Linked DNA regions of Homo sapiens: region 2 is linked to region 1. Evidence: fine-mapped expression QTL. A gene starts in region 1. The other region holds a variant in brackets. All regions are shown on one strand. Distances are from middle to middle. Region 1 holds the start of LILRB4 (leukocyte immunoglobulin like receptor B4). Region 2 overlaps LILRB2 (leukocyte immunoglobulin like receptor B2).

Region 1 (4,392 bases):
ACAAAAGTTAGCCGGGTGTGGTGGCAGCTGCCTGTAATCTCAGCTCTCAGCTACTCGGGAGGCTGAGTTAGGAGAATTGTTTGAACCCAGGAGGCCGAGGTTGCAGTAAGCCAAGATTGCACCACTGCACTCCAGCCTGGATGACAGAGTGTCACCCTGTCACAAAAAAAAAAAAAAAAAAGAAGCAAAATACAAGAAGTCCAGGACTGGTAAAGGCAAGGCATGTTGAGCGGTTAGAAAAGGGGTGATGACATCGAAAAACCTCCTGGCATTTCCCAGTCCTTGCCTAGCACAGGTTACTCTGAAAGCAGGACTTAAGACAAGGATATGAGCGCAGGTAACTGATTTGGGAACCAAGTTTAAGGGAATAGGGTTCCCTTATGAAAGAGAGAAGGAGAGGAATTCCTGAAATCAGCATGCATTGCGGACACCACTACAGCAGGTAATATGGACAGGTCCACACCAGGATCTCTGATAATGTGCAGACCATCATCCAGAACTTCCCGCCAAAACAGGAGATACTCGCCAATATGTGTATGGCTTTCTAGCCCCCATTTCTGGGAGTTTCTTTTTCCCCAGCCACTGTCAGACGCATCAAGCTTTGGCTGAAATAGCTTCCAATAAGGTCCTTACACACAAATGTGGAGAGACACATGGAAATCCTCGAAATGAGATACTGTCCCGTGATTCTGAGAGTGACCCAAAAGGATACGGAATGAGGTACTAAAAGCAGGTGCTTGGAAACCTGAGGGCAGTGGTGTTCATGCGTTTCCCGGCACTTTGACTTTCAGCCTCCTGCAAGCCTCTCCTTCTTTGCCTTCCTGACCGTTAGATACAATTAATTTGGGGTTTGTTTTTTCTGCTTCCTCTTTCCCCTCCCACCCTATGTTTCAGTTCTAAAGTTAGAAGGTCCTCTCATCCTTTTAAGAAGAACAGAGACAGAAAATGGTTAGTCACCATCTAGGACAGACTACAATTCCAGATCATTGCAGGACGTGCCCACTCAAATGGATGATTATTGAGAGCTGGCCACCTGAAGTGTTTTACACAGGCAGTGATCTAAGGGTTGAAGCTATCTGGCCTTTTTGCTTGCTTGTTATGTATTTATGGCTTTTTTCCTTTTCAAAATAATTTTACTAAATATTTAATTCACCAACTATATATATTTATGGGGTACAATGTGTTATAAATGTATACACTGTGGAATGATGGAATCAAGACAGTTAACATGTCCATCACTCCGCATACTAACATCTGTGAAAACATTTAAAATCTATGCTTGGCTGGGCGTGGTGGCTCATGCCTGTAACCCCAGCAACTTTGAGAGGCTGAGATGGGCGGATCACCAGAGGTCAGGAGTTCGAGACCGGCCTGGCCAACATGGTGAAACCCCATCTCTATTAAAAATACAAAAATTAGCTGTGAGTGGTGGCGGGTGCCTGTAATCCCAGCTACACAGGAGGCTAAAGCAGGAGAGTCTCCTGAACCCAGGAGGCGGAGGTTGCAGTGAGCTGAGATCACACCACAGCACTCTAGCCTGGGCGACAGAGTGAGACTGCATCTCAGAAAAGAAAAAATATATATATATATTTTGGAGCTACATCGTGCTAGCGCTGCAGAGAATGAGTTTTGTTTTGCGACACAGTTTTTAGATGTCTACCGGGCTCTGGTGGAGATGGAATGTTTGGCCTCAAGTGGGCAGGTCCCATGGGACATGAGTAGCCGACCATGACCTGGCTGCGTACTGGCCCACCAAGCATTCGACTGGCGTGCCCAGCCACTCTCCGTCATCGCAGAGAAGTGCTCTATGTGAGATTTGGTTAAAGGAGTCCCTGAAGGCCTGTGGGAGGCAGAATAGTGACCTCCCAGAGATGTCCACCTCCTGAGGCCCAGACCCTGTGAGTTGGGGAAGCTTATGTGGCAAAAGGGACTTTGCAGATGTGATTAAGTCAAGGATCTTGGGTTGGGGAGATTACCCAGGTGGGCCTGATGTAATCACAAGGGGCTGAGTAAGTGAAAGAGGAAGACAGGAGGGTCAGAGTGAGAGAAGGAGGTGAGTGCATGGAAGCAGGGGGCAGATAACGGGACTGGTGGCTTTGAGGTTGGAGGGAATGGAGAGGCAGGAATGCGGGAGCCTGCAGAGGCTTGAACAGGCGAGGGAACAGATTCTCCTTGGAGCCTCCAGGAGGACACGGCTCTGATAGCAGCTTCATTTTAGCCCAGGGAGACCCATTTTGGACTTGTGACCTCCGGGACGGTAAGTCAATAAACCTACATTATGTGAAGCCACTAAGCTTGTGGTGATTTGTTATGGCAGCAAAAGGAAGCTTTATGGTTCATCTGTACCCTGAAAATGCAGGTTTTTGGTTTTTTTTTTTTTTCACTTGTTCAATGATGTACCCCCAGTGTCAGGCGCTTTGCAAACACACGATACATACGGGTTGATGTTTGGTCAAGAGAGGAATTAAGACCAGGCAGACAGCAGGCTGGGATCAGAGAGACCCCATTTCTGTCTGAAATGTCTGCAGAGAACCTGGTGCCTGCCTCAGCCCTAGCTCTGGGGAAATGAAAGCCAGGCTGGGGTTCAAATGAGGGCAGTTTCCCTTCCTGTGGGCTGCTGATGGAACAACCCCATGACGAGAAGGACCCAGCCTCCAAGCGGCCACACCCTGTGTGTCTCTTTGTCCTGCCGGCACTGAGGACTCATCCATCTGCACAGCTGGGGCCCCTGGGAGGAGACGCCATGATCCCCACCTTCACGGCTCTGCTCTGCCTCGGTGAGATTTAAAGAGGGGGAGGGGAGACCCGAGTCTTGGAGGAAATTTGCCTCACAGCCAGGCCCTGGTTCTTTAGGAGACTCAAAAATCTCAGGGTAGCCGGGCGCGGTGGCTCACGCCTGTAATCCCAGCACTTTGGGAGGCCGAGGCGGGCGGATCACGAGGTCAGGAGATCGAGACCATCCTGGCTAACACGGTGAAACCCTGTCTCTACTAAAAATACAAAAAATTAGCCGGGGGTGGTTGCAGGCGCCTGTGGTCCCAGCCACTCGGGAGGCTGAGGCAGGAGAATGGCGTGAACCCGGGAGGCGGAGCTTGCAGTGAGCCAAGATCGCACCACCGCACTCCAGCCTGGGTGACAGCGAGACTCCGTCTCAAAAAAAAAAAAAAAAAAAAATCTCAGGGTAAAGAGAGGACCTGCTCAGGCTTCCGGGGCAAATCCCTCACAGGGAACTCTCTTCCAGGGCTGAGTCTGGGCCCCAGGACCCACATGCAGGCAGGTGAGTCTGTCCCCAGCTGTCCCAGGTCCCTCCTCCTCACTGGGACAAGGGGCCACCCATGGGCAGCTGGGGGAGGAGACAGCAGTTCTGGGTGACTGATGAGGATGACGGGGGGGTCCTGGGGCTGAGAGCTGGGATCTGAGGGCTGAGGAAGGTCTTGGGATCCAGCCTCTGATTTTCTTCCAGGGCCCCTCCCCAAACCCACCCTCTGGGCTGAGCCAGGCTCTGTGATCAGCTGGGGGAACTCTGTGACCATCTGGTGTCAGGGGACCCTGGAGGCTCGGGAGTACCGTCTGGATAAAGAGGAAAGCCCAGCACCCTGGGACAGACAGAACCCACTGGAGCCCAAGAACAAGGCCAGATTCTCCATCCCATCCATGACAGAGGACTATGCAGGGAGATACCGCTGTTACTATCGCAGCCCTGTAGGCTGGTCACAGCCCAGTGACCCCCTGGAGCTGGTGATGACAGGTGAGAGGACACTCAGGGGTCCCAGCCCCAGGCTCTGCCCTCAGGAAGGGGGTCAGCTCTCAGGGGCATCTCCCTCTCACAGCCCAGCCCTGGGGATGATGTGGGAGGTGGGAGCCCCATTTAACACGGTGCCTCCTTCTCTCCTAGGAGCCTACAGTAAACCCACCCTTTCAGCCCTGCCGAGTCCTCTTGTGACCTCAGGAAAGAGCGTGACCCTGCTGTGTCAGTCACGGAGCCCAATGGACACTTTTCTTCTGATCAAGGAGCGGGCAGCCCATCCCCTACTGCATCTGAGATCAGAGCACGGAGCTCAGCAGCACCAGGCTGAATTCCCCATGAGTCCTGTGACCTCAGTGCACGGGGGGACCTACAGGTGCTTCAGCTCACACGGCTTCTCCCACTACCTGCTGTCACACCCCAGTGACCCCCTGGAGCTCATAGTCTCAGGTGAGGCTCCTGACCCTGTCCTCTCTGAGCTCAGTGGCTCCGTTCATGCCCTGCTGCCAGGAGAGCTCTGGGCAGGGATGGAGGGAGAGGGGCTCAGCCAGTGGGGGACTCAGCCCTCAGAGGGGAGGAGGACAACAGGGGCCCTCCCAGGCATGCCCATGCTCTTCTCCCTCACCTAGGGTCCAGAAGGTGCCAGG
Region 2 (4,392 bases), 390 kb before region 1:
GTAGTACATTTATTTTAATTTATTATTTTTTTAAAAAAAATTCAATAGCTTTTGGGGAACAGGTGGTGTTTGGTTACGTGGATAAGCTCTTTAGTGGTGATTTTTGAGATTTTGGTGCATTCATCACCCGAGCAGTGTACACTGCACCCAATGTGTAGTCTTTTATCGCTCATCCCCCTCCCATTGTTCCCTGTGAGTCCCCAGATTCCATTATATCCTTCTTATGCCTTTGCATCCTCATAGTTTAGCTCCCACTTATGAGACCATATGATGTTTGGTTTTCCATTTCTGAATTACTTCACTTGGAATAATGGTCTCCAACTGCATCTAGGTTGCTGCGAATGCCATTATTTTGTCCCTTTTTGTGGCTGAGTAGTATTCCGTGCTGTGTGTGTGTATATACACACATACACATACATGTTTTTCATATGTTTGTGGACCGTTCGTATATCTTCTTTTGAGAGTTGTCACAAAGGGAATTGGATTTGGAGGGAACAATTTTATGGCCATTTTTCAGTATAATCATCGGGTGAAGACAGTGTCTGTTCGGCCAGTGTCGCTTTAATCCATTACCTGTAGCCAGGAAGGGAGACGTTTATCGCAGAGATAGGCACCAACCTGGAATGCTTTCCTCAAAGGCGATTAACTGTAGTGTGAACCCGAAATTTCACCGCAGTTTGGTCCTGATTTGGCACAAGATATGCTTTATCCACTGATGTGAAATGTCCAGGTGTTTTTTTGTACGGTTTTGTTGCTGAAAGACACAATACCCTCTAATCTAAGGCATCCTCTCCAAATCCCACTGAACAATACCCTCTAATCTAAGGCATCCTCTCCAAATCCCACTGAGGCACAGGAGTGACACTAGAGAGGGGGTCACGGAGCTTCCTGAGAGAGATTCGCCTCCTGAACCCTGGGCAGATCCTCCCCACCTTGGGATCTCTGTGAACCTCTGGGGTCTTCTATTCAATCAGGACCAAGTTGTGAGGTGGGATTCCTTCCAGGCTACAGTCTCCCCTCTCCCTCTTTCAATTTTATCAAGACAGATCAGAGGTTTGTGGGAGGGAGTCATGGCGTCTCCTCCACAGCCCCCAGCTGTGCAGATGGATGAGGCCACCGTTCCTGGATGGAGTAAATCTACTGGGAACCTGGGTTCTCCATCACGAGGTTGTCCCGTCATCAGCCCCAAAAGAAGGGGAACTGCCCTCTCCGGGAGCTTGACTTTCATTTCCCCAAGGCTGGGACTGGGGCAGGCACCAGGCTGTCTTCAGATACTTCATACAGAAATGGTATCTCCCTGACCCTTTTCTGCGATTTGCCTCATCTGTCCTCATCTCATCAAGGGTCAGGACGTAGGAGCCGATAGACCCAGCACCTTTCTGAGTCTGTCCTGTCCAAGTGAGGGTGAGTGGGGGCTTGTTCTTCTTCTCAGAGCCTCCCTGTGGGGTCCTCTTCCCTCCTTCAGCCTGTCCATCAACACAGCATTGCGGGATCCTTACCATGGCATCCAGCCCTGGAGATGCTTCAGGAAAGTTGCAGGTCCATGCTGCAGGACAGGCTCAGATCAGCAGAGACGCATCTCACATCGGGCTGTGAAATTCAAGTTGAGCTGCAATTGGCAATGAGAAGAAAAAAGGAGAAATAAAGAAATGCTGACTCTTCTTTTGTCTTTGGAGTATGGGTTTTATTTCTTCCAGTTTCCTTCTTAGACTTCCCTTCTTTTTTTTCTTCCTATTTTTTTTAATAGTGTTCAGGTCCCCCTCCCTTAAAAGTAACCTCTGAGTCATTCCTGCCTCCTTGGCGTCCCTCCCACCCCCAGCCCCGCTTCCTTGGGCATTCCCCTGCATCTCAGTCTGCCTTCAAGGTTTTGGGAACAAGTACTTGTCTTGAGCTCTGATTTGGGGGTGGGATAGGGAGTTAATTTTTTCTGAATTGCTCACCTTCATCCCTGCGTGCATGACCTTGGGCAGTAAGTCCCATCTCTGAGCCTCGGTTTCCTCATTTGGAGCCTGTTGTCATGAACCCCCCTCCTGAGTGGTTTTGGGGGCCAGTGGTGCCTGGGTCATGGGAGGGCCTCAGTCATGGTACATTTCCAGACCGGGTTAAGTCTTGGGGGTTGAAACATGAGTGGATCCTGGTGTTGGACTGCACAGTCA[C/T]GGTGAGTGACTTATGTGCTCAACAGCCCACATCTGCTCCTAACACTGGGAAAACCTACTTATAATGTGTCTGAAATATGTAGCCATGGTCCAATGAAGAAAATGAGAAATGAGACTTCCTGTCATAGGCAGGAAACCTTAAGAAGCAGAAGATGCCAGCGCCGAGGGGCTGCTGGTGACTTGCAAAGCTGGGGGTCACTAAGGGGGAGGTTTCTGCCTCTGTATGAGACAGAGGAGAACCCCAGGGCCCTCACAGACAGGGAGGGGTCGGGGTTTTGGATGAAAGTGGGAAGTTGTGGCTCCTTCTCCCCTGTGTTTGTGGATGGCACTGGGATATCTCTGCTCATTGACTCAGGTCCATGGTCAGCCCTGAGCCGCCTCCTCCATGTGTGTGAAACAGATTCACTGCAGCGTTGTCACACATGGGCGTCTGTCCCACATGCGAGTCTGAGGCTCACACTGGACCCTCCCTGCTGGTTACAGCCCTGAGTAGACTCATGTGGCACTGGCAGGTGGAACCATCTCCCCTTTTCCAGCCTTAACTCCCAGCACAGCCCTGGTGGAAACCCTCTCTGGAAGATGAGGCATGTGGGAAGCATGTGTCCAAAAATGACAAGGAGAAGGAATTATCCTAATGATCAAAAGTGCTATGATGGGCCAGGCACCGTGGCTCATGCCTGCAGTCCCAGCACTTTGGGAGGTCAAGGCGGGCGGGTCACTTGGGCCCAGGAGTTCAAGACCAGCCTGGGCAACATGGCAAAACCTCATCTCTACAAGAAATACAAAAATTAGCTGGATGTGGTGTCATGAATAATGGCCTCCAGCTCATCCAGGTTGCTGCAAAACTCAATCCCTTGTACATCAGTTGCAAAAAATTAAAAATATCTAAGAATATACCTAACTGAGGAGGTGAAAGATCTCTACAAGAAGAACAACAAAATGCTGCAGAAAGAAATCGTAGATGACACAGCAAAATAGAAATATATCCCATGCTCATGGATTGGCAGAATCAATATTGTGAAAATGATCACACTTCCCAAAGCAATATTTAGGTTCAATGCAATTCCCATCAAAATATCAACATCATTTTTTTCACAGAATTAGAAAAAAATCCTAAAATTCATATGGAACCAAAAAGAGGATGAATACCAAAGCAATCTTAAGCAAAAAGACAAATGTAAATTTAATAAACATATCCTAGGCTGAATTGTAGGGGGTTTGTTTTTGCTCACTTCAACCTCCACCTCCCGGGTTCATTCAAGTGATCCTCCTGCCTCTGCCTCCCAAGTAGCTGGGATTGCAGCGTGCGCCACCATGTCCAGCTAATTTTTGTATTTTTAGTAGAGATGGGGTTTTGCCTTGTTGGCCATGCTGGTCTTGAACTCCCGGCCTCAAGTAATCTGTGGCCTCTGCCTCCCTAGGTGTTGAGATTACAGGCGTGAGCCACCGCACCCGGGCACATTGCCTCTTTTTCTATTCTCAAGAAACATTTGTGATGCTCTGGGTGTGTTTGTGTGTTTCATTAGTGCGTCAATATTTGTAAGAAATCACCAGTGAAACTTCCTGAACTGGAGTTGATACGATGGGAACATTTTTATTACAGTCAATGTTTTTCACACACACACACACACACACACACACACATATATATACACACACATACACACACATTTAAAATGAGTCAGATTCTCTGATTACTCTTACGTTCATTATGTAAACTCCAGTTTTGAATATTTCATCCATTTAATCTGCATTTTCTAGTATATTGGTATAGGTTTGCAGCCTGTTCTGGGGTTAGTTTGTGAAAATGTGTGTAGGATCTGCTGGGCTGTCTGCTGGCTCACTCCCATATGGAAATGCGTGCCTGCTCTTTCTTTCTCTTGCTCAATGTAGTTAGGATTTATGACTGTAATTAATATTTTCAAGAATGAGCTTCATTGGCTTTGTTGAATTTTCAAGTTTTGGTTTTTCCTCATGAGCAACTCTTCTTCTTCTTATTCCCTTTCTTACACCTTCATTTGGAATAATTGGTTATTCTTTTTCTAAATTCCTTATACGAAAGCCAACGTCATTCATTTCCTAGTTTTTTTTTTTCGTTTCTACTTTTTTCATTTGTGGTTTGTACTTTTTCAATTTCATTGTGTGATGTGTAATATTTATATTGTGATTCAGTTTAAAGCACATTCTTACTTCTGATTTTAGTTTTCTCGGTTAACTCATTGATTATTGAGAAGTC

What was found. PIP is the estimated chance that this variant, and not a neighbour inherited with it, causes the effect.
Region 2: its variant is the best candidate, but not a certain one, in a credible set for the expression of LILRB4 in whole blood (TOPMed, PIP 0.61).

What each region holds. Positions count from the first base shown.
Region 1 is chr19:54,660,291-54,664,682 of GRCh38, forward strand. LILRB4 (leukocyte immunoglobulin like receptor B4) reads left to right here and starts at 2,695. Exons shown (of 12, transcript NM_001278426.4): 1 at 2,695-2,777; 2 at 3,242-3,277; 3 at 3,464-3,748; 4 at 3,896-4,195. The coding sequence starts at 2,744.
Region 2 is chr19:54,270,087-54,274,478 of GRCh38, forward strand. LILRB2 (leukocyte immunoglobulin like receptor B2) reads right to left here. Exons shown (of 14, transcript NM_001080978.4): 14 at 3,726-4,392. Among named protein-coding and RNA genes, the nearest start is that of LILRB2, 8.8 kb to the right of the region's middle. The variant C/T (reference allele first, on the strand shown) is at 2,157.